2 separate regions of the Homo sapiens genome follow, and region 1 is linked to region 2. The links come from fine-mapping of genetic effects on gene expression. A gene starts in region 2. The other region holds a variant in brackets. All regions are shown on one strand. Distances are between the middles of the regions.

Evidence for each region. PIP is the estimated chance that this variant, and not a neighbour inherited with it, causes the effect.
Region 1: its variant is fine-mapped to the expression of DPH5-DT in fibroblasts (GTEx, PIP above 0.99).

Annotation. Positions count from the first base shown.
Region 1 is chr1:101,065,809-101,082,409 of GRCh38, forward strand. DPH5-DT (DPH5 divergent transcript) reads left to right here. Exons shown (of 5, transcript NR_109849.1): 2 at 9,587-9,908; 3 at 11,555-11,700. Among named protein-coding and RNA genes, the nearest start is that of DPH5-DT, 48 kb to the left of the region's middle. RefSeq lists a silencer at 15,857-15,936. The variant T/C (reference allele first, on the strand shown) is at 9,635.
Region 2 is chr1:101,015,783-101,032,383 of GRCh38, forward strand. It overlaps DPH5-DT (DPH5 divergent transcript), which reads left to right and starts at 10,064. Exons shown (of 5, transcript NR_109849.1): 1 at 10,064-10,279. It overlaps DPH5 (diphthamide biosynthesis 5), which reads right to left and starts at 10,002. Exons shown (of 8, transcript NM_015958.3): 1 at 9,901-10,002; 2 at 9,527-9,684; 3 at 5,859-5,983. The coding sequence starts at 9,661. RefSeq lists enhancers at 9,532-10,731, 9,824-9,933 and a silencer at 11,725-11,784.

The DNA of each region.
Region 1 (16,601 bases), 50 kb after region 2:
GAATAAAACTATCTATGGGAAGGATCATGTCCCCTCTACCATCCCCATTTTCATATAGGCTTTTAAATGTTCACATATAGGCTATATGTTTCATATAGGCTTTTAAATGTTTAAATCTGTTGGTGTTCACAGAACTGCCTTTTCTAATGCAATGATTTTGAGGCAAGATGATTTGGGGAGACAAAACTACAGTTTTACTAAGTAAATTTGGGCTTCTAAGTCAGTAACAAAGGGCATATCAGATATTCAAAAAAGTAAATTCTGAATGTATAAGTTCAGGGGGTTTCTATTACCATATTAGTCCTTAGCTGTTAATATACCACAATAGAGACAATTCATACTGAGTATACAGTTACAGATAAATTGATCAAATTCATTCACTCAATAAATATTTATGGGGTACTTTCTATGTTTAAGAAACATTTCTAATCACTAGGAATATTGTCAAAATATTAGCCCTGTAGAGTTTACAAAATGGCTAGTAGAATTTACAAAAATCTCTAGCCTTTTAGAATTTAAATTCTAATAGGGCAGACAGACAAAAAACCCAAAAGTAAATAGTATGTCAGATGGTGATACATGCTATGAAAAATTAAAGCAGCCTGAGAAGGTTAGGGAGTGATCCACAGTGGATGGGGCAGGTATGCTGCTTGAGATATGGTGTCAAGGAAGGCCTCTCTGAAAAGGTGATTTGAGCAGAGACCTGAAGGAATTGAAGGAGTGAGGGAGTGAGCCTTGAAGGTATCTGAGGAAGAGCAGATGAGGTAACAGCAAGTGCCAATATCCTGAGGCAGAATTGCTGGGCATATTCAAGGAATAGCAAGGAGGTTAGTTTGGTAGGAGCAGGATGAGAAGGGAGAGAGTGGCAGGAAATGAGATTAGAGAGGTGGGGGTAGGATGGCAGATCTTGTCAGGTTTACAGTCTACAGAAGATATTTTGGGCATTCAGTCCCAGGGAGATGCCTTTAGAAGTAGAAAGTTGCATTTTTTTTCTTCAATTTTTATTTTGAGCTCTGGGGTACATATACAGGATGTGCAGGTTTGTTACATAGGTAAATATGTGCTATGGTGGTTTCCTGCACAGATCATCCCATTGCCCAGGTATTAAGCCCAGCATATATTAGCTATTTTTACTGATGCTCTCCCTCCCTCCACCCCCTGAACAGGCTCCAGTGTGTGCTGTTCCCTTCAATGTTTCTATGTGTTCTCATCGTTCATCTCCCACTTATAAGTGAAAATATGCAGTGTTTGGTTTTCTGCTCCTGCATTAGTTTGCTGAGTATAATGGCTTATACTTCCATCCATGTCCTGCAAAGGAGGTGATCTCATTCCTTTTTATGGCTGCATAATATTCCATGGTGGATACATGGAATATTACATTTTCTGTATCTAGTCTATCAGTCACTGATGGGCATTTGGGTTGATTCCATGTCTTTGCTATTGTGAATGGTGCTGCAATAAACATATGTGTGCATGTATCTTTATAATAGAATGATTTATATTCCTTTAGGTGTATACCCAGTAATGGGATTGCTGGGTCTAATGGTATTTCTGCTTCTAGATCTTTGAGGAGTTGCCACACTGTCTTCCACAACGGTTGAACTAATTTACACTCCCACCAGCAGTGTAAAAGTATTCCTATTTCTCCACATGCTCGCCAGCATCTGTTGTTTCTTGACGTTTTAATAATCGCCATTCTGACTGGCATGAGATGGTATCTCATTGTGGTTTTGATTTGCATTTCTCTAATGATCAGTGATGTTAAGCTGTTTTTCATATGTTCATTGGCCACATGAATATCTTCTTTTGAGAAGTGTCTGTTCATGTCCTTTGCCCACTTTTTAACGGGATTGTTTTTTCTTGTAAATTTGTTTAAGATGCTTGTAAACTCTGGATATTAGATGTTTGTCAGATGGATAGATTGCAAAAATGTTCTCCCATTCTGTAGGTGAGGATTGCATTTCTTAACTAAAATGCCCTCAAACCAAATTGTCACAATACTGGCCTTAACCAAGCCATTTATGCCCGGTGTTCCATTTTTTGATTGCCACATAACATTATGTGAAACACAATAAAAACTTTTTCTCTTCAAATTCTTGTTCCTTAAATTTTTGCAGGTTACATATATGAATTTTATGCAAAAATTCAAAAAATTGCAACCTCAGGCATAAATGGGTTATGAAGACTAATTTCTACTTTAAATTATTTTTCAAACTTAGATGGATCATCCTATAAGCATATTAATTCAATCTTGGAAAAGACTTGCCTGGTAATATGGCAGAAGCTCTAGTTGTCAAAAAGTCTTAGAACAGCTTGACTATTTCTCAGGTTTTCCATCTTTCACATCTCTAAAATGTTCAGTGCAAGTTTTTAGTGAAGCAGAGCTGATATTTTTGTAAACTTATGGTATATTATTGATAATTTTCAAATAAGAGAAAATCTAGTCTATTAGCTAGAATAGTTTCATTTACTTCAATTATTTATTCAATAAACATTTACTTTGCATTTATTATATTCCAGAATTGTATTAGGTCCTCAAAATACAAAGATATAGAAAGGCTTTTTCCTCAAAACAGATTCGTAAATAAATAATTGCAAGATGATATGGCAAGTGCCTACTATATAGTAGTTGCTCATTAGATACTTGTTTAATGGATGAATGATGGTAGGACCAAGAATGAAATGATTATCTTTGTCCGAGGAAGTCAGAGAAGGGGGAAGGAATCACTTTTGACCATTAGCTCCACGGGAAAATGGGGAAAGGGCATTATCTTGTTCACTCCAGCATCTAGCATAGAATCCAGCAAATAATCAGTGCCCAGTAAAAATGTATGGAATGAATAAATGGATGAGTGAATGAGGGGATGATTGAACAATGTCTAAGGCAGGAGTAAAATTTAGGAGGCAGGAGCACATTGCTTGTAAAGGGAACAATGTATACAGAAGGCACAGAGATGTGGAAATGTATTATTCCATTCCAGTAATAATTTTGGATTTTCATTTAAAGTACTCTGTCACATATACACTAGAGACATAATTGTTGGTACACATGCTTCTTTTTGTGTATTTCGTATGAATCTACTTGCATCTAGAAATTTTCTACAATGCTATTGGTAGATGTATATATATATTAGCCAGATGAAATATTTATGTTTTTAGCACAGAAACTTGTGTTGCCACAACTTATTTTAAATAGTATATTTATAAGCAAGAACAACTCTGAAATCAGAACAGATAACATTGTCCTAATAATACAAAGATTAATTCACAGAGCACATTTGGTGGGAAAAAAATTATACATTTTGCCACATAGTAAAGAGTATTATCTTGTCCATTAGTTGTGCAGTTAAACCTTTATCAAGGTATAACAAGCCCTCAAAGTGATTTCAATTGAATGACAAAAGGGATGGAATAAAATTCATTTAAAACTGGTTCACACCAGCTCTCCTGCGTGTTCTATTAACTGCTAAGATCAAGTCACAAAACATTATTTTGAGGAGAAAGGGTTTAGTGAACCCTAGAAATTGGGTTTGATTTATGCCAGAAAATCTGCCTTTTCACTGCTTGAGATTTCTGTGGAAGAAAGCCACAGTCTTTTACCAAATGGTTTCTAAGGAAACCCCTTATAGCACAGCATTGGAAAACAATTTAGTTGTTAATGAGAAATGGTTCTCACGGTGGGAAAGTGTTGACTGAAAGAAAAGGCTTCTGGAGTTAGCGGTCAGTCTGTAAAAAGTGTTTACCGCTCTACAGTTAACGTTTATGAAATTTCTACATAGAGCAAACATTTTTAGGTCCCATTTTGCAGTTATTCTCGCTTGTAAATATATTTTTTAAAGAAGCTAGGGCAATAGAAAAGTTTTTGTCTAAAAGTTTAGATACTTGAACTTGCAAAAATATATTCAAACAAGTTGTCTTCCAGAATCTGTGCACTCCGGTGAATTTTTCAGTTTTGGAATTGCAACATTCTAGAATTTATATGTTAGCATTAAAATATAAGTAAATTAATTTTGCATAAAATATTTCTAAAAATCCTAAAATACAGTAGGGTATTTATATATTTTTAAAACATTTTAAAAATGTATTCTGAAATGTCCCATAAGTTGTATTTATTTTACTTCTTTAATTTCTGCATAAAAATAAAATAATTAATTGCAATGAATATTTTAACTATAATCCTTTTATAAGAATTTCAAGATTAAATTTTAATATCTAATGAAGCACTAAACCTTGTAGTTAAAAAATAAATGCTAAATATATACAAATTCTTCTAAATGTACCTATTGAAGCCAGATTCCAAAATAACTACACCTGTATTTTCCTGATAATCTTTAAGTAGTGAAAGCCAAGGAAACTCATGCAATAACTTTAAATAGATTTTCATCTGTAGCATGATTCAGAAACATGAATGAATATATGACAGGAACCAAAAAAAGTGACCATCAGAAAAGTTCAGAGGAAAATATTTAGAAATATTTCTTGCTTTGGGATTGTTATAAGTTTTCAAGTCTGTTTAAAAATATAACACTCAGTTGTTAAGTCACTTGAAAGCCTATTGGTACATCGCTTTGCCGAAAGCTGCCATCAGTCCATCTGTCCACAAGTGTGTTTTCTGCTTTAGACTTTCATACAAGACAGAGTTGCCAATAGTCTTCATGTTGTCTTCCGTTGTTTTCCTCATTTGACCCCCACCTCCTTTCTCTTTCTTCTCTGGTCTTTGAACTTCCTCCACTTTGGGCAGCTGCTTTCATTTGCAGCTCTGCTTTGAGCAAGGAAAAAATTCTGCCAATGAAAACAGGAAAAATAAGAAAACAAGAAGGGTTGCAAGTGTTTTGCATGTGTTGCAGCTCTCCGGCTGTCCACTTTGGGGTCTTCTCACCATTGGGTAGTATACTGAGAAGGAATCTGTTGTTGGAAACTGACCCTAGGTGACCAGAGCTTATCTAAGGGACACTTTTTTTGTCATCTTAGAATCAATAAATTTATAAATCATTTGTGTTAAAAGAACTGTGAAAGTGATATTTTATGTTTACTCACCCACTCCATATTCTGAGGTATATATTTATCATTTGGTCTGGTCAGATCTATGATATTGTCAAGTTACAGTTATATATATATATATATATGACTATATGATGTATATATAATATTTTAGAGACAGGGTCTCACTCTGATGCCCAGGCTGGCCTTGAACTCCTGGGCTCAAACGATCCTCCAGCCTCAGCCTCCCAAGTAGCTGGGACTACAGGCGCTTGCCACTGTGCCCGGTTATAATATTTTTGATTAAGACATTTGAGAGGGAGAGAATATGGCCTTTTTTTTTTTTTAACTCTCCTTCATTCCCTACAATACACACAAAAACCCCCACAGGGCAGGAACTTCTCTAACTTTCTCAGAGTAGTATATGATAGATATGCATGTACAATACATGAGAGTACTTCATAAATATTAGTTCATGGAGATAATGAAGAAAACATCTTTTCTAAGTCAAAAAATAGGAAGCAAATTCTTAATAGTTGCTGTTATTATGCCAATATGCTTGAGTTTGAAGTTTAGTGAGATCTTTTTTGAGTGGCTAAAAAAGGGAAGAGATGTAAGTCTTGTCTTCGTTGATAAAACATCAGGAGGATAGATTGATGGTGGTATCTAAATAATATACTCAAAATTAGAGTGTAGTTTCTGCCTTGGCACATCTGTCTTGTTTCCACTTCTTTGCTTCCTCCTTTTTCCACAGTATCCACTGCAGCACCACAGGATAGCTCCCCAGATAAGGCAGCAATCTAATGGGGCAGCTGTAGATCTCTGTGTTAGAATTAAGAAAGGAGTATTTGTCATTACTTATGTAACCCACTCTGCATCCACACTGACATATATAGCTGAATGAAGAAATCGCTCAAGCAAAATGTTGCCTCCCTTTGACCTTGTCTGAGTGCCATTCATTGTTGTTATCAGAGCTGAACAGTAAATGGCAGGAACCACATAAGAGTTGTAAACAAGTACACATGAGAAAAAGAAGTAACTGTATTTGCTGAGTCAAGATCCATGTAAAGGAGAGGATCACATTTCCCTTTCTTGGAAACACTTGAAAATATTTACAGTCTCAAGTTCAATTTAAAATATTCTTATTAAGTGTCTACTCTGTGTTAGACTCTTCACTAGTAACTGTGAATACAGAGATAATGAAGTATCTTGCTCATGGAAGAACTCACAGACTAGACTTATGATAACCTCTCTTCTCCTTAGAATTTGGAGGACTTTAGATGGTTTCCCCTAGATTTTTGTTTTGTTGCACAGTGTTACTCTTATTCTCTTAATCTCTAATGAAAAGCCTATTTGGTGGTATAGTACGAGTCCTAATGATGAATGAGTCCTAATGATAAATAAGACATCATTAGGACTTCTACTTTTTCAGTCTGTTTTACGAGTCCCACTCCACTAGACTGGGACCTTCTGGAGGGCAGGTTCCAGAAGGTCCCAGTCTAGTGGAGGAGTGAGACTTGTAAAATGGAAGTTATAGTACAATTTTTATAGAAATGATCAAATCATATTCTTTCTGAAACACTTAACTTCTGAGATTGATAGATCTTACCATTTAAATGAGTATACACATAAGGTGTTGTAGCATTGTATCTGGCAGACTGAGAGGACATAAAAGATGTTAACTACCTGCTTTACCATTATTACCTTTACCTTTCCTGTTTCACTGTTCTTATGCCAGATATTGAATACAAATCTAGCCCTTCCATATTTGACCTCTTTAAATGTCTCATTAACAAATGTCAGTCTACTTTCTAGGTGACATGAGACTCCTTATGTATCAGCATATCATTATCACTTCTGTTCTTCCACAGTTCCTGAATATATCACATGTGGTGATAAACATGAAGATGTATGAAAAATTGTGTTCGTTGAGAGAAAATGGAAGGCTTTTCATTCTACTTCCACATTTTCATTCCAGCAGCTTTTCTGTTTTGGAAGATGAGTACTGAATCTTGCAATGAAATTTTTTTAACTTAAACAAGGTATATTTTAGCGTGTTCCGCTATGGATGACTGTCTGATGCCGTCATGAATATTCAATTAACTTTTATTTTATTTTTATTTTATTTTATTTATTTATTTATTTTTGAGATGGAGTCCCACTCTGTCGCCCAGGCTGGAGTGCAGTGGCATGATCTCGGCTCACTGCAACCTCTGCCTCCTGTGTTCAAGTGATTCTCATGCCTCAGCATCCTGAGTAGGTGGGACTACAGGCATGTACCACCATGCCTAGCTAATTTTTGTATTTTTAATAGAGATGGGGTTTTACCATGTTGGCCAGTCTGGTCTCAAACTGCTAACCTCAAGTGATCCACCTGCCTTGGCCTACCAAAGTGCTGGGATTACGGGCGTAAGCCACTGTGCCCAGCCAAATATTCAATTAACTCTTAGATCAGCGTTTCTGAACCTCAGCTCTGCTGACATTTCCAGCCAGATAATTCTTTGTTGTGCGGGCTGTCCTGTGTGCTGTAGGATGTTTGGCAGTATCCCTGGCCTCTACCTACTAGATGACAGCATCCCTGCACATCTCTGACATCCAAAAATGACTCTAGACATTGCCAAATATCCCTGGGGGGTAAAATCATCCCCAGTTGGGAACCACTGCTTTTGATCATCTGGCCATTGATTTTTGGCCAATAGGATGGAGCTATGTGACTACAAGGGTGTGTGGCCTTTCTTCTGGTAGGTGTAGGACTTCAGTCTGCCATGCTCCTTCATATACTCAGTGCCTAATTTGTGCAAGGTAGCAGCAAACCATGAGGAGAAAGGTGGTCCATGTCTTGAAGAAACTCATAGTCTAACAATTTGTAAACTAAGTTGATTTTTCAGGTTTTGGAAATATGCTAGGTGATTCTTGATAATTCTTTGAAGTGGTACCTTGAGCTTCTTAGATAGCTGTGATAAATTTCCAAAGTTGGATATTATTATGTGTTATCAAAATACTTTCAAAGCAGTGGAAAACCCCTATACTTTTCTTGAAATTTTTCATTGAATAGTTGACTCTTGTGTAAGGAATAGATTGAAATTTGCAGCTTTGTTTTACTGGGATATTTGCTTGTTGTTTTAATGTTTAAGCCTTATCCCTCCAAATCTTTTATAAATCAACACTTGTATTGTAGATTTGGAGGATAATAACAGCACCTGTCCTGATACATAGAGTTCTTATTGTTTAGACAGCTGTCTACACTGAACATCAGCTGTCTGTACTCTGATTTCAGGGGTGTGTATGTGATCTAGGTTTGGACAATAAAAATATTGAACCCTCCTTCCCTGGACCTACAATTGTTTAAGGGAAGGAGACATGCAAAAGTTGGTATAAATTTCAATTCTAAAAGAATAATTGTACAATAAAAAATCTTACAATCGTGTAACTGAAGCTAACGTAAGTGTTCAGCTTACTATCAAGTACATAAAAACTTTAAAAATCCTTTAAAAATAACAAAAAATTCCAAATACTGTAATTAAGCATTTGATTCATTTAAAATCAAGTATGGAGCAACATACAATATAGCATTTAATATCACATTTGAACTGGTAAATCACTAGGACAACTTAGTTAAATAGTAATAAAAGAATTAATCCCCAGGATTATAGCATTTCTGTGGCATTTATCTAGTCCTTTGTACATAACAAAGTGATTCAGCTCTTCATTCATAAAACTGTGTTAGGAATCTGAGTTGTATGGTTTTCTGTGTGACAATTTAGACATTTTAGTCTTTGCATTCCAAAAACACTAGGAAAGTTGTTATTTGTTTGAAACAGATTCCAATGATCTGTTCTAATTTATTCTGATGAAAAGGGTAAAGGGAAATTTCTCTGACTTCTAAACTAACTTGAGAGATTTTCCTATTGCCTCAGTCTGTCCTCCCACCCCTAAGGTACATAGAAAGACAGATATGTGTGTACACACTATAACATTGTTTAAATGATACTCATATTATTGTTCTGAAATAGCCATACTTTAAATGATTTCAGATAATTGGCTTCAGTTTTGCTAATATAATTTATGTAAGTCATATGGCTAGGTCAAATTTAATAGAAAATTTGGGAAGAAAGATATTTAAAAATATATTTTATGATGAAAACTATCTTGATAAATTTCCTTGTTTATTTTATATGATAAAAATCATTGGTTGCTCCCTAATAAAATATCATTTCACTTACATTACAGTGCTGGGCATGTATTACAAGTTGCTCATTTTTAGAGCTAATTTATGTAGCATATTTGCATGTGTGTGTGTAAAAGATTGTGACAGAGATAAGAGAAATAAGTGAAACGTTCACTTATTCACAATATAAGTGAATATAATCTATTAATATTCAAATTAAAAACTAGATAGCAAGTCAGTAGTTCATTTAGTTGAGAAACTTAGGGGAGGATGGGCAACTAACAATAACGGTACTATTATTATCATTCCTTTTTTACAGACAAGGAAAATGAAGCGCAGAGACGTTAAATAACTCTCTCAAGGTCATGCAGCTGAGAAGAGATGAGACTTGAACTCCAGTGCCAGCCCTGTTAATCACTATTCTGTACTGTCTTTCAGGTTCTTATGCCTTTGTTTGAAAAACATGGTTCCCTGTGAAATTTTACA[T/C]GTAGAAGAAAGCTTCACACTACGAGAGCTCTCAGGATATAATTATTTCAGACAGATACTGGGAACATAAGATGGCTTATCAATCTAAGATGGCCTTCCTGTCCTTCGGATTGAACTGAAACCATCCCTGATTCCAGGGATAGGTAGATGATCCAGGTTTGGACAATCAAAATATTGAACCACCCTGGACCTACAAGTGTTTCTGGGATGGGAACATGCAAACGTTGGTCCAAATTGTTGTTCTAGGCAGCCCAGTACATTTCTCCAATGCCTGGTAAGCTCTAAATATCTCTAAATGTTTGTTGCAGAATGAATGAGAATAAAAGTATTCTCTTAGAACATATCCCTGACATTAGGTGTGGGATAAAAGTGGAAAATGCAGTTTGCCTCATAAAAATAGCTTTCAGAAATGACTTTTCTACAACAGCCATTCACCAGTATTCTAAAGGGCACCTGTCAAGGAGTCACTGCATTTTCAAAAGTACATTTATTTTCACATCACTGGCCAAAGTTGATCTATTATCATCACATTAGGCCCCTAGTATAGAGATGGCCCCTAAATTAGAAGCAGATTTGAATTGTTGAGACCTAAAAGCTTAGTTCCCTTAGAAGACTTTTTACCTGAGGGCAGGAGGTATAGTGAGGATCACCTGCTTTGAGTCATACTGGCCTGAGGTTGAATCATAACTTTGAAGTCAACTGAGGAATTGCATACTATGCATAGCATGACCAGCGGCATACTATGCAATTCCTCAGTTGACCGAGTAATTATACCCACCCATAGGATTGTTTTGTGAGTTAAAGGAAAGCTATATATACTTACATAAAATAAGCTGTATTATTTTACTTTCTTTTACAACTCTCAGTTGCAGGGATAAAAGGGAAGGAAAGAAGGGAGGGATGGAAGGAAAGAATAATGGAAGGAGGAAAGGAATTATAAAAGAAAATTGGCTAAAAAAATTAACTCATTACTAAAATATTAAGGGTTCAAACAGTATTCTCAGGACTTGGTATCTGCATTTCTACAGCCTATTTTTCTTAATACTTGCTTTAACTGTCAAAGGAGTTATTTCCTAATGTCATCCTTTAGCAACTCTAAACTTACATCTTGCCATTTTCTAATATAACATAAAAAAGAGCAACTCTCCCTGAAATACCTATAGAAGTCTTGGCCTCACTTTGATGAGACAAACTTGCATGTTTCTGTTCCTAAAACAACTGTAGATCCAGGGGGGTTCAATATTTTGATTATCCAAACCTAGATCACATGCCTGTCCCTGAAATCGGATAGTTTCAGCTCAATCCAAAGCAGGGGGACCGAAGGCACAGGAAGCACGGTTGTCCAAAGAAAATTGTTGATAGTGTTACCAAAAGAAAGGGGAGTGAATGTTAGATGGTAAAATCAGAAAAAAATGTCCACTACACTGTCACTTAACTAAATAGCAGTTATTATTGTGTTTTGTGCCACTTACAGATTCCTATTAAACCTACTACTACATTTTAAAAAATCGCTCTATTTAACAACTTTATTCAGAAAATATATTTAGATTTCCAATTTGGGATATTGCGATACATCTTCTACCTTTGCTTCAAGATGAATATAATTAGCAGGAATTCCTTAACAGGCCTATGTGGAACTCTCATTTAACTTTTATGAGCCTCAGTTTTCTTCCCATTGTCTAGAGAGTTACCCAAACAATTTTCTTTACTTTTGGCCAAGGTATCTCTGCTCCCTGCAGAATATAACAGATTGTTGTCTTATAACTTTTCTCCTTTTCTCTTGTTCCAGAAGCAACAGTTACTTCTTTTAGGCTATTTTCTGTTTTTGTTTGGTTTTGTTTTGTTTTCTTTTCCCTCAAACTGCTAATAACTATATACATACCACTACTTCTCGCTTCTCTTTTTTTACTTTGGCTCTAGATGGAATGATAGGGTATGCATAAATGTTCATGTGGGCTCTGGAGTATACCAGGAACTGAAGTAAGGTACATGGACGTCTTGAATATTGTAACTGAGATGGGCAAGCCTACACCTTTGCAAATAAAGGAGGATTGGGAAAGATTAAGGTGAGCTTTCTCGCAAACAGATGGGTCATGGGAATAAGGAATTCTGAATGCATGAACAGTGATGCTGAAAAGCAGGGGGTCTTCAAACTATACTCAAGGGCCAAATCATTGCCTCTTTTTATAAGTGAAGTTTTATTAGACTACTGCTCCACCCATTCATTTAAATGTGGTCTATGGCTGCTTTAGGACTTAAAATGCCAGAATACTTGTGACAGAAACCTTCTGGCCCTCAAAGCCTAGAATATACACTATCTGGCTCTTTAAAGAAGTTTGCCAACACCTGCTCCATTGTAAGGAGGATATTAGTCGGGTTCTAACAGAATTGCTTGTTGAACTAGGGTTTAAAACACATGGTAGAGACTCCACTGCCATAACCAGAGAGAAGACTGCCAAGAATTAGGCTAACTTGTTCTCAGGCAAAAAGGCTACGTAAAAGGCAGAATCTCAGTTCTGCAGGGCCAGTGCAGGAGGTGAGGAGGCAGGGGTTACACTGGTGTCCGTGGGTCATTGTTCATGCAATGGATACTCGGTCTGGTTGAGGGATACATGCAAGGCTAGAATTTGTGCTGAGTCACCAGATTTAAGATCTGGGAAAAAATAATGTACATTTCTTGACTTCAAAGACGTGGGGGCCATTAATCCAGATTTTACCCTTGTTGAACTAACTCAGGAATGGAAAACACTCTTGGTGAGGAAATGGGACACTGAATAGGGATACTTCCTACCAGCCCAAGACTAGGGTTAGGGAAGGACTCACTTATTGGTAAGAAAGGATTTTTGCCTCTACAGACCTTTACTTAGACCTGTACTTAAATGAGGTAAGAAGTGAGAAAGCAATATTTCTCAAGTGCCTACAAACCTGAGGAGTCTTTTTCCATTTGTATGTTACTCAAGATCTCAAAATGCCACAGCTCTTTAAAAGGGCTTCTTCTCTCCTTTGTATTGGTGGCTTGCAACATGCTATTTGAATCTTTCAGCAGGCTGACCTGTTTGGCTAATGCTATAACCCAAATTAATTGTTCTTTCCTCTATGTTTTTATTTATTTATTTATTTATTTATTTATTTATTTATTTATTTTTTTGAGACAGAGTCTCGCTCTGTTGCCCAGGCTGGAGTGCAGTGGCACCATCTCGGCTCACTGCAAGCTCCGCCTCCCGGGTTCACGCCATTCTCCTGCCTCAGCCTCCCGAGTAGCTGGGACTACAGGCGCCCGCCACCACGCCTGGCTAATTTTTTGTATTTTTAGTAGAGACGGGGTTTCACCGTGTTAGCCAGGATGGTCTCAATCTCCTAACCTCGTGATCCGCCCGCTTCGGCCTCCCAAAGTGTTTTTATTTGATCTTATCACAGTAGTCAGCATATTTTGCCTTGTATTATACTTATATGTGTACATGTAGTCTTCCCCCAGACTAGCCATTACTTGAGAGCAAAATTTTAGCCTTATCCGTCTAAATATCCCCCAAGTGCTTATCTAGTGAATGCCTAATTGTAATGCCTATTGACTTAAATGGAATTTAATTAAATGGGGTTTGTTATATTCTGCTAAGACTGTAGTAGATGTAGACACAAGTCTGATTCTTTTCTTATAACTACCATTTTCCCCTGTTATGGATATATCAAATTACTTACCACCCTTAACATCTCCTCCAGATTAATTTGTCTTGTGTAAGCCCCTAGTTGACCAAAGCTGATGGCTGATTAAATTCCCCCAAGGGAACTCAGCCACACAGCCACATAGGTTTTTTTTCTTTTTTGGTTGCAAAAAGCAGAAAGGTGCGTATGCAACAGAGACCATCTTAAACACGAGAATTATTAGAGTAGCTCACAGAAAGGTATCACTGAACAAGCAAGCTTCAGGAGGTTAGAAACCAGGACAATTCTGAGGACTCGAGCATTGAGAACTCATGAACTCTTTGACCCAGAGCACCCCAAGGCACCTCCACTTAAGACTCAAATTCGAAGGATCTGTGTAAGCCAGCTTGATTCAATAATCTAATTCTGTGCTCAGGAAACAGGTGGTTCCTTTTTTTTTTTTTTTAAATCAGAATTTGGAGTTAAGAGGATGCAGGGAGAGTGGTAGACAAACGGAAACAAGTGTTACCATAGCAATCTATTAGAGGGCAAACTAAGCCACCAGGAGTCTCTCAAGAACAAACAAACAAACAAACAAATGTTATGAATGACTTTTGGCTTAAATGTCATGTAGACTAAGACTGGAGGCGCAATGGAGAAGGAGGGAAAACTGAGAGCTGATAGAAGCAAAATGAAGGATAGGAGTGAGCATCCCCTAAGATGGACAAGGTGCCTTCATTTCCTAATGGTTTCTCCTCTTCTTTTCTTTGAACCTACCAATGTGTGGTTATTTTCCTTGCAATATTGTGTTGTAAGATATCCTTCCAATTTAGAAACAGAAAGGGTAGTAATTGCCTCATGTTAGAATATTTAGCTATAGAATAATAGGAATCAAAATTATTTTAGACATCAAAGAGTATGGAAAATCAAAGATAATCTGAGGCAGCAAGACACAAATCCCATTTGTCAATTCTGCCATTTGGTGATCATGATGGTAGTGATTTGAGATATGTCTAGCTAAGTACCAAGCACTGTTTTAAGTATTTACATATATTGTTCTCTCAAAAACTCTGACGTGTAGGTAGAATTATTAGCCTCATTTTACACATAAGAGAGCTAAAGTATACAAAGAATAAGTAATGGAGCCAGGATTCAAATTTCCTAATTCAACATCAAAGCCTAAATTCCTGAAAGTGCAAGTCTCTCACAAACTTCAGGAATTCCACAGCATACCAGAAATCTTAAGTTTTAGGGTGGTTCGAAACCTTATAAATCCCTTTGAGTCAAAAATTTCTCTTTTTTTCCAGATCCTGTTAAACGTCAGTGTTACTATTTAGCCTTTGATATCTCCAGTAAAGGCAACTTCTTTCTGGACCCAGAAATAAAGCTTTACATTAGCAGCTTCCATAACACCAATAACATGAATGACCATCTACTGAGCAATTGCAGTGCACCAGGATTATGGCTTATGAGCACTTTATGTTTATTATCTCACAACTCACTGAGTTAGATACTCTCCACAACCCAGTGAGGTAAATACTATTACTTCCACAGTATATATTATTATATAATAAAATGCTTAGAATATACACACAGTAACTAAACACTACTTATAAAATATGGCTCTAGATATGTTTGATAAATATTTCCTTCATGAAAACATGGAGGAATTAATTAGCAGTATCTCTCTGCAGCCTTTAGCCCTCGAGAATCATGTAGAAAAGAGGAGCTGTCTTCTCTTTTAGCAGAACATCTGTCAGAGATGGTTTCCCCTGACTTAGACAATTGTGTTTTTTTCCCTTCAGAATGATTGAGTCTCAGAATTGTTCTTTAATCCTCAGTATTTCCATTAAGAAGAGCTTCTATCAAGTGCTTCAAAAGTACCCAATGTGAAGGAGTAATAATGACTCCCTGCTGGTGAGCGAAGTGTGGAGGACACAGGTCCCTCAGCCGTCCACTGGATGCTGCACTGTTTGGCCTGAGCCAACATGGGCAGAAATACAGGCGGCAGCATAAGCAGATGCCAAGAACCTGTCTTGCTTCTACTGTTTTCATTGGGTTACTATATCTCCTTTGTAGTCCAACCTGCAAATTACTTTGAGAAGGGGAGATACACCCCTGGACCAATCTAGGACTATATTTGTTCCCTTGCTAAAGTAGGAAAAAAAATACAGAACCTTTAAATATTGAACTCAAGGGCAACTAATTTAAATTCCTTTCCTTTCATGTTGAAAGTCTTTTGACTGGGTTATTCTGAAGCCATAGCAATTAGGTTACAGTTTACTTCTCTGTTACTTTACCATCTTTAAATTTGGCACCTTCAAAAGGTTGTTCTGTGCGTTTAAAAAAAAAAAGGAACTACCGTTGGATATTGTATTGTTGATGACCATTATTTGATTCTGGATTCTTTTGTGTGTTTGTGTTTGGGTGTTTTTGGTTGTTGTTTGTTTGTTTTCTAGAGACGGGGGGTCTCACTATGTTGTCCAGACTAGATTCGAGCCCCTGAGCTCAAGGGATTCTCCAGCCCCAGCCTCCCGAGTAGCTGGAACTGCAGGCACCCGCCACCACGCCCAGGGACAGTTACTTGATTCTTAATAGTCCAGTCATAATGAGACAGGATACTGCATAAGCCAAAGACCACACAAAGTATCAATGTTAAGTATCAAGAGGGTGTGGAGGAAGTGGGTTACAACCACTTTGTCTCCCAACTGTTGTATGTTTTGCCTTTAAAAATTTTTTTAAGTACGTTAAATTCTAATGTACTCAGATGTGGCTGAAACAATGACAAAACATTAGTTTTCTTTAAATATGCGTGACTTTTAAGCTTTTTCCCTTTCCCAGTGACTTGCTTCTCCACTAAGCTCTTTTTTTCTTTTTTTTTTTTCCTCAAATATTATTGTTTCATGTCACTGTGACAAGTTTAGTCTACTGGAAATTCCTATGTCCTCTGTAATTTAGGTTTTAAGCAACATATGATTTATCTTGTTATTTTAAAAAAACTATCTGCCTTCCCTAAGTGGGCAACTCTCTGGCATCCTTAATATTCTTCTATAGAAATTGTGATGAAAGAACAGATAAGCCTAAGTAAATCTAGCGTGTGGAGCTCCTTTAAAATGTGAAGACCTTGCCAACTGGTTAAAAATAAAACTTGGTTTTGTCCTAAATATCCTTGCTGGGCCTATTATACATAAAAAAAGGGGCCACAGCCCATTTGCAAGGCTTCTGAATGAACTCCATTCATTCTGTACTTGGAAATGTCTCTTCAGCCACAAAAAGAAACAATAGTTATAACCTAATTTCTTTGGTGCCAATATCAGCAGAAGAAGAG
Region 2 (16,601 bases):
ATACATTTATGTTATAGAGACAACTTTTTTCCTTAAACCTCATGAACCAACCTCGGCTAGCTTGGAACAATTTTTCTGCAGCTTCCTCACCCCTGTCAGCCTTCATAGACTTGAAGAGAGTTCGAGCCTTGCCCTGGATTAGACTTTAGCTTAAGGGAATATTGTGGCAGGTTTGATCTTCTATACAGAACACTAAAACGTTCTCCCTATCAGCAATAAGTCTGTTTTACTACCTTATCATTAGAGCATTCGTAAGAGTAGCACTTTTAATTTCCATTAAGAACTTTTCCAGCCAGGTGCAGTGGCTCACATCTGTAATCCCAGCACTTTGGGAGGCTGAGGCAGACAGATCACGAGGTCAGGAGATCGGGACCATCCTGACCAACACGGTGAAACCCCGTCTCTACTAAAAATACAAAAAGTTAGCTGGGCGTGGTGGCAGGCGCCTGTAGTCCCAGCTACTCGGGAGGGTGAGGCAGGAGAATGGCGTGAACCCGGGAGGCGGAGCTTGCAGTGAGCTGAGATTGTGCCACTGCACTCCAGCCTGGGCAACAGAATGAGACTCCTTCTCAAAAAAAAGAACTTTTCCTTTGCATACATAACTTGGCTGTTTGATGAAAAAGGCCTAGTTTCCAGCTTATCTTGGCTTTCCTTTTCTTTCTTTCTTTTTTTTTTTTTTTGACACGGAATCTCACTATATCACCCAGGCTGGAGTGCAGTAGCATGATCTTGGCTCACTGCAACCTCCACCTCCTGGGTTCAAGCAATTGTCCCTCCCTCAGCCTCTCGGGTAGCTGGGATTACAGGCACCCGCCACCACGCCCAGCTAATTTTTGTATTTTTTGGTAGAGACGGGGTTTCATCATGTTGGCCAGGCTGGTCTTGAACTCCTGACTGGAGGTGATCTGCCCACCTCAGCCTCCCAAAGTGCTGGGATTACAGGTGTGAGCCACCACACCCAGCCTCTTGGCTTTCTATATGCCTTCCTCATTTCTAGCTTTTGATTCAAAGTGAGAGACATGTGACTCTTTCACTTAAACACTTTGAGGCCATTGTAGGGTTATTAATTGACCTAACTTCAATATTGTTGGGTCTCTGGTAAAAGGGAGGCCCAAGAAGAGAGAGAGAGTTGGGGGAATGGCTGGTTGGTGGGGAGCAGTCAGAACACACACAACATTTATCAATTAAGTTCGCCATTTTATATGCGCTTGGTTTGTGGCAACCCAAAGTACAACAGTAACATCAAAGATCACTGATCACAAATCATCATTAACAGATGTAATAATGAAAAAGCTTGAAATATCACAATAATTACCAAAATGTAACACAGAGACAGGAAGTGAGAACATGCTGTCAGAAAAAAATGGCACCAATAGGATTGCTCAATGCAAAGTTGCCACAAACCTTCAATTTTTAAAAAATGCAATGTATGTGAAATGAAATAAAGCAAAACACAATAAAACGAGGTATGCCTGTACATAAATTTTCACAGCTTGTCACTCAGTCTTTATATGAGAGTCCTATCTCCTATAATATTGGATTTTATATCTGTCCAGCAGTCATTTTAACTGTTTTTATTTGGTTACTGTGTGTAATTAGGATGTGTGTATGCGTATGTACGTATGTGTGCATATTTGACCTGTTGCCTTTCCATTTTTAAGATAAAATCTCAAGATTGTAAGTAGGTAGATTGGAGTAAAGAGAGACTATAGATAAATATAAACATGGACACAGTGAAATGTAACCGCTTATCAATTTAGAACTTCATTTTAAAGGCCTTTTTCCCTCCTGATAAAAATTCCAGGCCCTACTGGGTAAAGCAACATTAGCATGTCTGAGAAACCACATGCAAACAAGTAGAACCTGTGGACTGGTCAATGCATACCAAGTAGGAAGATAAAGGGCTTTCACCCCATGGAGCAGTCAGATATATATTAACAAATTAACAAATGCCCACCAGGGAAGCCTGTTTTTAATCACATACATAAAATAAAACTGGTATGAAAAATAATCATTAATTTGATTTCAAATAAGCTTTTAAAAAATAACATGAATGTCAATTATAAAGAATTGTTTTTAATATCACCTTCAACAGAATCTCACTACTTAACATTAAGAGTAAAGAAAACTAAATTAGTTACTTGGTGAGTTATTTAAGCAAATGAAAAACTGGCTCAAAATTACATCTCTATCACAAGTTTATTTAAAATGAGTAGACACATACATATACACACAAACAAATTTACTATTTCTAGGTATATGGCTCTATCTAAAATCATATATGTGTATATGTATGTATGCTCAGAAATAGTAATAAATCTGTCTGTAATAACATGCTTGTTACTTGAAATTGTTCTAAAGGCAATTTCAAGAAAGGAGATCCAAAAATGTTTTGATTAATGGAATCAATAAAATAAAGTACACAAAGGTGACCAATTTGAATATACAAAATTTGATTTTTTTTTTTTTTTTTTGAGACAGAGTCTTGCTCCATTGCCCAGGCTGGAGTGCAGTGGCACGATCTTGGCTCATGCAACCTCCGCCTCCCGGGTTCAATCAATTCTCCTGCCTCAGCCTCCTGAGTAGCTGGGATTACAGGTGCCTGCCACCACGTCTGGCTACTTTTTTGTATTTTTAGTAGAGATGGGGTTTCGCCACATTGCCCAGGCTGGTTTCAAACTCCTGGGCTCGGGCAATCCACCCGCCTCAGCCTCCCAAAGTTGCTGGGATTACAAGCATGAGCCACTGCGCCGGCTGGTATGTTTGTTTTAAATTTTATAGTGTCTCCGTTTTTGACATAAGTGTGGCTGGTGGGCCAGAAATTTAGTAATGTTTGCAATGATATAGCGCAAATGACGTTTTCATGAACTATGGAAGCACTAACACTTGGCACTATCCTTTTGAAAAATAATTGACAATATGCTTTATTCTACAAAATGTCCATGTCCACACCTTTTGATATTTTATTCCTAAAAACCTATTTTGGAGGATCTACCATAAGGAAACAACCTAAAACATGGGGATAAAGAAGTGGGAGGCAGGAAGGTATCATATACATAAATTTACATGTGACAGCTTTATTTATATTGAAGAAAAATAGACTAATAATAATGCTGCCATTGATTTTATAGTTATTAGGTATCAAGCACTGTTCACATTCATTACATGGAATGGAAGCAGTCAGCCTACATCAGGACATATTATCTGTATATGGATGCCACTAAGGAAAAGGCATACAACATAGGGATAAAAATTTTGTATTCATTATAATAATATAGTTACAGAGCATATTGAAATACAGAATGGAATAATAAAACAGAACCATCATTAGAAACAGTGTGTTTAATAAAGACTTCTTATGCAGAGATTTAGGGATAGAATGTTTGAGACTGTCAACTCTCACAGTGATTAAGTTCTATTGATTTAGTATATATTTTTAGACTCATTTACTTTCTTTGTGTGATCTATTTCCATATTCCTTTCAATAACCTGGGTAAAAGAACAAAGATGAGACTACATGAACTTACTTAACTATGACTTTAAATTGTCTTCAAGAACTTCATATTGCTGGAGATGGACAGTGCTGATAGTTGCACAACAATGTGAATGTACTTAGTATGCCACTGAACTGTACACTAAAATGGTTAAAATGACACATTTTGTCATGTGTCATTTTACCATTTTAAAAGTACTGAAAAAAAGAATTTAAGATTCAGCATCTTAAACAATCTTCTTTTTATATATTTTATTTAAATAAGAAGGGGTCTTAAAATTAAATAAGGGATATTTTTTGCTCATATCTAAGAATTTCAGTGCCTTGCTGCATTCTATATTCCTTACCTGATTTCTCCTCCATTTAATCCACTCATATTCCAATTAAAATTACACATTCCCCATCATGCCATTTCCAACTATCATATCCTAACTATAATCTGCCGGTAAATAAAAAATAACTGCAGTACAGTAAATATTCCTTAAATCTGAATTCAAATACAAGGCTATATACGATGAATCACTAAGAAAGGGCAAATTAAAGAAGTCTAAAATGGAAAAAAAAAAGGCACTCCGGAATAAAACAGGAATGAAAGAGGTAGCATCTGAGCTGTATACTAATTTTATAGTACAATTAGGTATAATTAGGAACTGAGAAGAACTCTTTTAAGGAAAAAGCTTGAGCAAAGAAATAGGGGAAGAATATTACAAAACACTTATGAAATGGAAAGTTGTACCATTTGGTTTTAGCATAGCGGTTAAAGAGTAGCTAGAGAAAAAAGAAAGACTTCAAGATTTAAGGCCATGAGAAGTCACTGAAGGTTTTTGAGCATGGGAGCAATTAATTACATCAAGGTACTTTCTCTGTGCCTCAGTTTTTTCATTTATATGAGCATTCTTCCTTCTACCTTTCTCCTGGCCCACCCTATAATCTCCATCTGTTGAACCCTATCCAGACCCAGCGCAAGTTCCAGCTCCTCCATAAAACCACCACTAATCAACTCCAAACATCATGTCTTTAAATTCATACACATATTTCTGTCCTCATCTTACAGTCAAACTTTCAGTATTATATTGAAGGTATTCAGTCTTTCCTTTTTGAATAGTCTCTTTTCCTGGCTTCTGTGACAACATACTCTCTTGCTTTTTCTCCCTCCTCCTCTGGCTCCAGGTACACGATGAAATTCCAAGGTTTCCTAGGGCCATCCTAGGTCCTCTTTTCCCACTCTTCTCTCCTAAGCTGATTCTATCCATTCCTCCAGCTTTAAACACCATAAACATACTGATGACTTCAAAAGCCATTTATCTAGGATGACCTCCCATCCCAAGCTCTAGCAGCAGCTAACTGCCTACTTGACATCTCAAAGTAAACATATTTCCAGAACCAATTCTTGTTTCTCCAAATCCTGTTCTCTACCAGTTTTCAAGTGACACTACCAACCACTCATTTGTAAAGCTAGAATCCTGGGAATCAGATTTACTCCTTTCCTTTTCCTTATCCACCACATTCATCTTGGCATTCTTCTTCTAAATATGTTCCCATCTTTTTCTCTTTTCCACCAAAAACGTTCTTGCCTCCCTAAAATCCATTTACCTAAGCACTTAAAGTGACCTTTTAATGCTAATCAGATTTTGACTTTTTCCTGCTTTGAATCCTGCAAAAGTTTACCACTGTATTTAAATTAAATTCCTAGTCCCCTCCAAGGTCTTACATGGTCCTTATGTTCCTTAAATCTGTGATATAAATCTTAGGTAACCAGCTGTAGACAAAGAACTCTTCTGTTTGGCTTGACATTAGAGATTGATGATGCTTGACTAGGCAGTAGATGCCCATCTTCGTGGTAATGACAAAGAACAGGGTTCCCAATGGATATAAGAAACTGAAATCAGAGACTTGATAAATGATAAATTCAAGGCAAGCAAAGTGACGGCAGTATTGCCAAATAGTAGATGATTACAAAAGGAAAAAAAACCTAGGACAAAAGAAGTCGAAGATGCCTGAAATTATCAGCAGAAAATGGCAGGCATGACTTTTGATAATGTAATGAACTATTTAATAATGATATAGCAGTTAAGGCATTTGTTGCCCTACATGACCTTCTAAAACAGCAGAAGCAATGATACAAACTTTAGAGTTGACACTTGATAATGTAGTGATACATATGATGATATATTTACCAACTAGCTTTTCTTCACTAATCTCAAAGATCATGAAAGTTTAAACTATGACATTTTAGATAGCGCTTAAGTAACCAGAGTTCCTTATCAGGACCTGGCAGGTAAAAGTGTTAAATGCAATAGAATAATTCTTACTGATTAAAAAAAAGTAAATGAGTTAAAAACTCAAAATATCTGCCTTGACTTACCCAAATGGATCACCAACCACAAGGAATGCAACATCACTGATATCAGCATCCTTTAAAATATTATCTGCTTCTTGTTCCACTTCTTCTCTATCAGCAACAACCAATTTTCTTCCATAAAACTCTTCCTACAGATATAAGTCCAATATCAAGATAAAGAGACAGCAGGTGACCATTCTAACACACACACACACACACACACACACACACACACACACACACTCTTTGTTTGGGACTGGTGCATATGTTGGCAACCACCCAAATGCAGATCATTCAATACAACTCATCAGTAAGCCAGTACTTTATGTCATGTTGCAATTAAACTCTGTATTTGGGGCTGTCTTAATATCCCAAAGGAGGCGGAACTCTTAACATCTGAGGCTTTTTGCATTTTAAATTTATTTCTAAATTTGGTTCTAAAGGCCAAATAGAACACTGTAGGATGAATGCGGAATATGTACACATGAGCCCTACTTCAGAAACATGATGTAATACAGAATAAATATATTAAACAATAAGTTTAAACAAACATGGTGGTTTAGCTTTTATTAAATTTTCAATGGTTAAACATATGGCAACTCAGCTAGAAAAAAAAGGCAGCACCAATGAGAAACAATAGAAAATTAGCTGTTTACAGAACCAGTGAACATTCCTACATAAATGCAGAAGATACTAATTTAAAACTATATTCCTTAGTTTCTGCTAAAAAGGCAGAGTTGCAGGAGCAGTAACTGAATTCTAAATATGTAGGAAGTTTGCAAACAAACTGCTTTGTGATTTAATTCCCTGCAGCTCAACTCTAGAGAACAAATCCAGTAGAGAGTGAGCTAGTAAGCTAGTAGTCATCTGATAGTGGTTACGGGCTATTATGCAAGATCATGAATCCTTTTCTTTTTTTTCATCTCGTCAGCCAGTACAGAATGAAGGATCATGAATCTTAAAACTGATTTCCTGAGAAGTAATAAGTAATTCAAATGGAGTAAAACTGGATGCATAGATAAATAATACGGTTTCTTACATACTGAGAACTTTGAGTGAGTTATTAAAATTTATAAGGATTGCTGTAGTGCAACGGTATCTGGTACTCAATAATATCTGTCAAACAAATGAGTACATGAACAAATTATTAAGCAGGGCAGGATCCAGCATTGACCATTTTGCTTGAATCCTACCTTCTCTGTAGGTGTTCTGTGAAGTTAAACTTTGTGTAGCTATTATCTATCCTTAAGAATACAGAGACACAGTACAGTGTAGAGGTCAAGAGTGGTAGACCTCGGCCGGGCGCAGTGGCTCTCACCTGTAATCACAGCACTTTGGAGGCCGAGGCAGGTGGATCACCTGAGGTCAGGAGTTCGAGACCAGCCTGGCCAACATGGTGAAATCTCATCCTACTAAAAATACAAAAATTAGCCGGGCGCAATGGCACACGCCTGTAATCCCAGCTACTCAGAAGGCTGTGACAGAAGAATTGCTTGAACCCGAGAGGCAGAGGTTGCAGGGGGCCGAGATCGCACCACTGCATTCCAGCCTAGGCAACATAGCAAGACTCCGTCTCAAAATAAAAAAACATAATAAATAATAATAATAATAAAAAGAGTGGCAGACTTCAACTCAGGACTGCTTTGGTTCATCTCCTGGCTCTATCATTCACTATCTGCATGAACTTAGGCAAGTTTGTTAACTTCTCTATCCCTGCAAAATGAACAGTAATTAGAATAATAATCCTAATCTACATGTAAAGCATTTAAAACAGTGCACAGTAACTGTTCTGTAACTGTTCTATAAATGTCAGTACTTATTACTGTGAAGAAACAGATATTCCAGCACCTTAACAAAGTACACATAATTTACTGTAGGTAAGGCTGGGTCCAGCTTCAGGTCTTGACTCTGTAAGTAGTAACTCCAGAAGTTTTGTCTTTGGAAAAAAATACTTTACAAAATAACAGCAGCCAAAATTAACATTTAGCTAGCACTGAAAATTTACAAAGCACTTTCATATACATCATCTCAATAAAACACTACATAACCCTCCAACTGGTAATTGCCACTTGACAAATGAAGAAACTGAGGTTCAGAGAAGTTTGGAAATGTGAACATTGACAATTTCTATTTCTGAACAGTTTTGTGCCATATACCATAGTTAAGAACCTATGCTAAGAATTATGCTGAACACCTAAAGTAGATGTTTTTTACCCCATTTAAAAAAGACACTAAAGTTAAAGGACTTGTCCAAGGTCACATTAACATGTAACAAAGATAAAACTATAACCAAACTTTCCTCTATGCCATCCCCTGATATCTCATTCTATCAAACTGCTGTTTTGTTATTTGTCTGTCTTTTCTTGAAGGTGTTAAGTTCCTTTTACTTTTCCTTAATCACTGATTAGAGACGCACATTTCCATCATTTCGAGCTTAGATATTTTGGTTCTATCCTAAGAGTGAAAAAATGAGAAAAAAAAATGTTTTTTAAATCAAAGCTGGCCTTAGGCTGGGTGTGGTTGCTTGTGCCTATACAATCCCAGCACTTTAGGAGGCCGAGGTGGGCAGATCACTAGAGTCCAGGAACTTGTGACCAGCCTGGGCAATGTGGCAAAACCCTGTCTCTACAAAAAATACAAAAAATTAGCTGGGCATGATGGCACCCACCTGTAGTCTCAGCTACTCGAGAGGTTGAGGTGGGAGGATACTTGAGCCCAGGAGGCTGAGGCTGCAGTGAGCCATGATCATACCATTGCACCCCAGCCTGGGCAACAGAGCAAGACTTATTTTCTCTCTCTCTCCACATATATGTATATATCAAAGTTGGTCTTTACACACAACTTTTATTTAAATGCATGGCCAATTCAAGTAGCAGTTCTTAATTCCTTCTATAAGATTTTAAAGTAATCTGAGGCCTAAAAATTTTAAGTCTATTTTTTGTTTGGAAGACATGACAATAAATCTGCTCCCTCCTCCCATAACATATGTATTAATCCTTTGATTTACATTCTACTTAGAGTTTGACAATGAACCTGAAGTTGACCCTTCCCCCAAATTTACTGGGCCCTTATGAGGGCCAACTATAAATGTATAATATACTAACAAATACTTTGGTTACTTAGTGTATACTCATGTAAGTGTATACTCATACATTTTTATATATTAAGTCCAGGCTCACTCAATATATACAAGTGTATCAGTATAAGCCTTATTGGGAGATAGTCTATTTAAGATAAGATCTCTCTGGATAGGATACAAAAAGGCAATCGCCATTCCCTATGGACACACTTCAAAGGGGGAAGCTTTCAGCTTGGTTTTTGAATATATATAACCAACTCATTAAGGCTGTGTCAGCTCCTCATTAGCACTCAACTCAGAAAGGGTTTCTTGACTACCTCATGAAATAAGGGGTTTTGATAACTATCCCCCAGGAGTATAAAATAGCTTTCCTATTTACTGGAGAAAGCCACAAAATTAGACTTGTAAAATAGGACAAAGCACCCTTTCATTTTCCAAGTCACTTGGTTGGTGTAAAATTTCCATTCTTCTGCTCCTCAGATCATTAATGAACAAGGGATGCGTTTCAAAGGGTTTAAACAAGCAGACCTGAAAATTCTGTTCAGCTTAGTGTATGAAAATCAGATGTTAGATAGCTTTCTTCCCAGGAGGCTGGGGAACGCTCAGCACCTACCAAGGCTTCCTTCCCTACAGTTAGGACTGAGGTGTAGGCTTCCAGATACACTCGACTGCAGCGTCTAACAACTTCCAGGCCCTTGACTGTGATGTCCTTGGCATCTCCCAGGCCCAACCCGATGAGATAAAGCATTTCAAACTTGAGGAGAAGAGAGACTGCAAGACGAAGTGGACAGAAAAACCGTCAGTAACACCGAGGACATCTAAAATCTAGTGATGAACACGATGACAACCAAAGTAGCACAAGAGAAGAGGCAAGTCACAAGGAGGGGTTTGGGAACCTTATGTCACGCTTAAGAACTGGGATAAGAGGTTTTAAACAACCCTACCAGTTTTGCCTCTTGTTACACAAACCTAGGAGCAGCCAATTACCCGCTGAGAGAATCGTAGGTAGTTCTCTGGCCTTTACAAATTCTTAACTACCACCTTTCCGCAGAAGCAACTGCAAAAGCGCCGGCTCCGTGCAGAGAAAAGGCCCACGCCGCCGGCCTCACCTACGGTGCCGCAAAATGCTGGTGCCTTTACTGCACTTTACGACTAGCGGGAGGGGGCCGGGCTAGCGGGCTACTGGGCTGCGGAGACCAGAGCCCGGCTCCACTGAAGAAACCCGCCGGCTGCTGGGGCAGGGCGGCGAAAGGTCAGTCGGCCGAGAGGAGTCCGTGGAGCCACCGTTTCATAGCCTCAGGGAAAGGATCGGGCGTGCTCACGAGCCCTCTAACCCATGGCTTAAACACCCGCTTCCTAAGCCTGGGTAAGTGCAGTAGCTCTTCGCTCGAGAGGAGCCACGTGGAAGAGAGTCGGGAGGGGCCCTGCGCCCTACTCCTCCTCTCCAGAAACAGGGAGGGCTGGGAAGGATTTTCCTGATTTGTCCCCGGATTTGGCCGAGTGCACAGATTTTAATTCCAGTCTTCTCATCCTCCTGTAGTTCAACTAGGTGTCTTCCTGGTGAAGCGTGAGATTGGCAAACCCAGCAGTGAGTGTGCTTCTGATTTCCCAACAAGGCAATGACTCCTTGGGTTTGTCCCCAAGACCTTATGCCTGGAGTGCCCCAAGGATGTTTCAGTCACCCTCAGTGTCAGGAATCCCAGACCTTCCTGTACCTAAAGAAGTGACCTTTAATAGTGCTCAGGGATTTCAGACCTCTCAAGTGTTTCTGCCGGGGGAATTCTTATAAAGCTGTTGGTTACATGTAATTAGAAATAGGGAAGATTTGTTTTGACTGAAAATGCTCTTCCCAAGGTGACCTCATCCAAGTTAAAAAAGACAGCTGTCATTGCTTTTCTTAGCAGGCAGTGTTGGTTACTCAGAATTTTCCTGTTGCCTCCCCGACAATGCCCAACTCCGCTTCCTTGAACCTTGGCTTTTTTTCATTCCCAGGTTCCATCCACCTTTTTGCACTTCCTATCTATAAACTCTTCGTGGCTGTGTTTTATCCCCTCTCATTACGTTGATCTATTCCTCACACCACATACACACCCCAAAAAACTCAAAATGGATCGTAGATGTAAATGGAAAACCTAAACCTATACCAGAAGAAAACATAGGAGGAAATATTCGTGACCTTATTTAGGCAAATATTTCTTAAACCAAAAGCGTGATGAAAAAAATTGATAAATTGGACTTCAACAAAGTAAAAATTTATGCTCTTCAAAAGACTTGAAGCCACATACTGAAAATATTTACAAAGCATGTATCTGATGAAGGACTTGTATGGAGAATATATAAGGAGCACTCAGAAAGCAATAATAAAACAGTTCGTTGTTTAAAAATGGGCAAAAGATTTGAATAGACACCAAAGAAGATACACAAATAGCAAATAATTATTTTAAAAGATCTTAAACAAACAAAAAAAGATCCTAAACATCATTAGACATTAGGAAAATAAACATTTAAATCACAATGAGCTACCACAACCCACCTATTAGAATGGCTTAAGTAAAACAAACAAAACCTCACAAAAACTGGCTGTTCACTCAGAATTCCTAGTATCGCTAATATTTTGTAGATTCAAATTTCAGCCTCCTATCCAGACTTCCTCCCTCTTGGCTTCATGTTAACGTTCTGCTGGAAATCTTCACCTAGATAACCCGGAAGCATATTCAACACATCCAAGGTTGAATCCATCACCTTCCCTTTCCATTTTGCTTTTCTTTCCATATTATCTACTTGGATGGGTCGGGGGTGGGGGTGGGTGAGGAGAGTATTGTCATCAACAGATTAACCCCAGCCAGACACTTGGGAGTCACCCCCACATCGTCTGTCATGTCTGCCTGTATATCTCAATAGAAACCATACCGTCTATCACCATCTTGATTCTCAGGTCCTCATTTTGTCACTCTTGTAGCTGATAATAATGTCTCCTTCACTCAAGGGGGTCAGAGAGTTATAGTTAACAATCTGAAAATATTACACCCCTTCTAGATCCTTCTGAGGCCAAGAGAAAGTCCAGGTTTGTTAACATACCCCACAAGATCATTCGTGGTGTGGCCACTGCCTACCTTTTTAGCATCATCTCTCTCCACTCCATACCATGAGCTTTCTCGCTTTCTCTCCAGCAATACTGAATTGCTTGTAGTTCTCTGCCCACAACATGCTGCTTTGTTCCTCTACGCTGCTGCCTCATCATAGAATATTGTCTCCCATTCTCTCCTGCCTAGATCACTAATACCCATTCTTTAAGACCAAGTTCAGGAAGCCTTCCCAGAGACCCTCACCCCCCTAAGCTAATTTAGGTTTCTCCTCTTCATTACAGTATTACTCTACATATACTTACTAACCAATTTATGAGATTTTATATTTGTTCATTTGTATTTCTTCTTTACCAAACTATTGATTTAGTTAATTCAGGGACTGCATCTTATTTGTATGCTCATCTTAGGTTTAGCACTATCCCTTGCACATAATAGGTATTAAATAAATGTTTGTTGAATAAATCATTATTATCCACTAGTAGCTGAGCTACGTATTTTTCCATCTTTATTAATACAGAGGGTGGTATGTTTTAAAAAACTACCAAAAAAATCATTAATGGAATATCAAATATAAATATGCCTGTCTCATGCCACTTTAGAAGGTCATTTGTATTGAAAGGCTTGCAACACACAAAACATATAGTTCATATGCATGCTATTGAGTAGGTAAACACATTTTCCAATGTGTTGATCATTTATGTTTTTTGTTTTCAGATTTAAAAAAATAATAATTTCAGGTAGATTCACAGTGCAAGGACACTGCCAAAAAGGATGATTAAGTAATCTGAAGAAGGTGTGGTTTATCTCCTTTCAGGAAATATATCTATATTGAAAATAAAGTTATTCTGGGTAATCAAGGAAGTGAAACATTGCCTGAAATAACAGTAATAATTTGTTTTTAAGCTTCAAAATGTAGCCAGAGGAACTTAGTTTTACCACGGAGAATTCTTAACAAACAAACCTTTCACCTGCCGTTATTTCTCAATAAGAGTGTAAATTTTTTGTACTTTTCTGGAGGTAGACAGATAAAGGGATTATGGTAATCTTTTTTGTTTTTCCTCCTCAGCTCAACAAACATAAGCTGCAAAAATCTTGCCTATTGGATTTTGCAGAATTCTGTGGGATTTGGACATTTTTCCCTTGCCATTTAAAACAGGTTTCAAATGTGATTACATTTTCCCCAACAATTTATTGTGAAAAATTTCAAACATATAGAAAAGTTGAAACAGTGTCACAGTCAACACCCATATAGCCACCTCCAAGGTTCTAAAGTTTTAACATTTTGCTGTTTTTGCTTTATCACTTATTTATCCTTTTACCCAGATGTCAACCCATCTTATTTGTTGATGCATTTCCAGGGAAGTTGCAGCCATCAATACACATATTACATTTTGCTTGAAACATAAACTCCTCACCTAGGTAATAGATTAACAAAACATACCTAGGCATATAGCTGATTAAATGATATCATTGCTTCACCTAATTTAGGCTGGATTTTGAAAATTTTGCTGTAAAACGATTTCAAATTAGTTTTTAACAAATATTATAGTTTTATAATGATAATGAAAGCAGTTAGAGGACAAATTCTTTTATGTCAGCAAATTTGTAGTCTCATGTCTAGCAGAAGAGAGAGTGATGGTTAAAGAGAAAGGTGATTATAGGACAAAAGAAAAAAAGAAAGATTTTTAGCCTTTTTTGGCTTCAAGAATAACATGGATAGATTAGACCTGAAGAGTTTTCTACTTTGTATTCTTGCTTTCAGGTCAGATGATGCCAAGTCATCCCTGAGGGTGAACATTTATGCTTTTATGAAGGATCTTTAAGATGTTTTTATAACCTTTGCCAGTAACTCATTTTTACTGGCAAATTCTTCCTTATATTTGAGACCTACAGTCAGTAGTCATAAAATGTGAGAGAGATGCAGATAGTCATAAGAAATTAATACTGATGGCTTTTCCATTTCATTGTCATAGACACATCATATGCTACTTTTATTCTGAAGTAATAACATAGTTGAGTCACTGCATTACCTTACGGACAAATTATAATTACCTTACATTTAAGAGAAGTCATCCTTCAATTGTCCTGTTTAAGCAGTTTGTGTATTGAAAAGAAGACATCAGGGTGACTGACTAAACTCCATCTGACCTTACTGTGAATGAAGAATATTATTTTACTATGAAGCTGGCCTTTTAACCTACATGTTCCCAGAAATTGCCTTTGTTAGAGGAAATCTTGGTTAATATTTGTAGAGCTCAGACTCTTAATTGATTGAAGTCATTATTTTCTAACAATTCACAAATAAGTGATAATTAAAGATAACATTGCTTTAGGATAAGGACCTGTATTTACTAAGGTTAAAAGATTTGAAGTTACTTTATTGTACACTTGTTTACTTAGAGAAAAAGTCACTTTTTATAAACCCAGTGATTTTAAGTACTCATCCATACATTATATGTTAATCATATGATGTAAAAATGCATAAAAAACAAATCTAGAGCTATTTTCTGTGTAAAGTGTGGAAATTTTTATTGTCATTCATCCTAGCTTAATAGATTGAATCAGTAACAATATGGACTGTCGTAAAGAAGTCACCTAGAGCCCTGCGTTTTTGTGTAAAGGAGCTCCCAGAATGTTCCCTTAAGTGCCTGTGTGTATGTGCATGTATGTGTAAACTTTCTGTTTGTTTCTAACCCATTTTCGTATATGGCAGGTCCTTCCTCCAAAGTCTATTGCTAAAAAGGTAGAATCAGGGATACATAATTCACTCTTTTTGCATTTAAAAAAACTACAGGCCAGGCACGGTGGCTTACGCCTGTAATCCCAGCACTTTGGGAGGCTGAGGCGGGTGGATCACGAGGTCAGGAGATCCAGACCATCCTGGCTAACACGGTGAAACCCCGTCTCTACTAAAAATACAAAAAAATTAGCCGGGCGTGGTGGCGGGCACCTGTAGTCCCAGCTACTTGGGAGGCTGAGGCAGGAGAATGGCCTGAACCTGGGAGGCGGAGCTTGCAGTGAGCCAAGATCGTGCCACTGCACTCCAGCCTGGGCAACAAAGCGAGACTCCGTCTCAAATAAAAAACAAAAACAAAAACAAAAACTTACAGTGTCCCTTTAAGGTTTTTTAGGGAAACATAGCTAAACTAGCCAAGATTTGGTGGGAGAAGGGGAGTGGTTTCCCTTTCATTCAAAAGCCAAAATTCATAAAAGCGAACTACCAGGCTGTATATTAGCCACACACACATACCCCCACTATCTACACCACTCCCCTAGTTCTCCAGCCTCACCTCCTCGTCTCCGTACCCCTGGCCCCTACAGATAGCTGTGTGGCTCTGGCTCCACTTCCTTGAAGTCATTGTTCAGAATTCACTTCCTCAGTGAGGGCTATTTTATGTAAACTACAACCAACATTTCTAATCACTTTATCCGCTTATTTGCCCCTGTAGCATTGCTCACTTTGTAACACAACTGTCTAGTTTACTTATTTATTATGATGTTTTTTGTCCACATCCTATTAGAGTATAAGCACCACAAAGGCAGGATTTTTTTGTCTGTGTTATGCTCTAATGTGAAACAAACAGCTAGAACAGTGTTTGATGCTCAGTAAATATATATTGAATGAATGAGTATACATCTACACATGGTAATAAGTTATAAATAAATTTCTGGAGGAGAAGAACTGAACAGAGGGGATTTTTTATAATGATTGAGAACTCACATTTTGATGTCATTCAGACCGTGTTTAGTCTAGGCCTTTCACTCAGTAGTGTATTCCTTGCATTCCCTTTTTAAACCTCAGTTACCTATTCTATAAAATAGAGATAATAGTAACATCTTTCATGGGATTATTGTGAGGATAAATGAAAAAATACATATAAAGGGTTTAGCATACTTTCAGACAACTAGTAAAGACTCAGAAAACATTGACAAATATTGATATAGAGTTTGAAATTAATTTTAGAATTATCTACAGTGTCTGTCAGATTATAATATGAAAGTCAAGTCCACCTAGATTGGTTCTTATTCTTTTCCCCATTCACAAAAGTTATATGAATCATTTACATAATTCAGTAATTATAGACCAATCCACTAAATAGTTTACTGATTGACAAAAGTCATCTTAAGCAAGCATTATTATTTTAATATTATTCTCTGAGGTATTCTTTCTGAGAGAAGCTCTTCATTTCAATTATTCTGTCATTGAGTTCAACACTATAGACTTGGTTGGCACCAAAGAAATGTTGTCTGGCAATTTGTTAAAACTTAAAGTAGAACTTAAAGGAAATGGAGCCAAATGTGGTGGTTTACAGCTGTATAATCCTAGCACTTTCAGAGGCTGAGGAGGGAGAATCACTTGAGCCCAGGAGTTTGAGACCAGCCTGGCCAACATACCAAGATTTCGTCTCTACTAAAAATAAAAATAAAAAAGTTAGCTGGGCATGGTGGCATGCACCTGTAGTCCCAGCTGCTCAGGAGGCTGAGGCAGGAGGATTGCTTGAGCCCAGGAATTTGAGGCTGCAATGAGCTATGATCACATCACCGCACTCTAACCTGGGTGACAGAGTGAAACCCTGTCTCAAAAAAAAAAGTGAATGGACT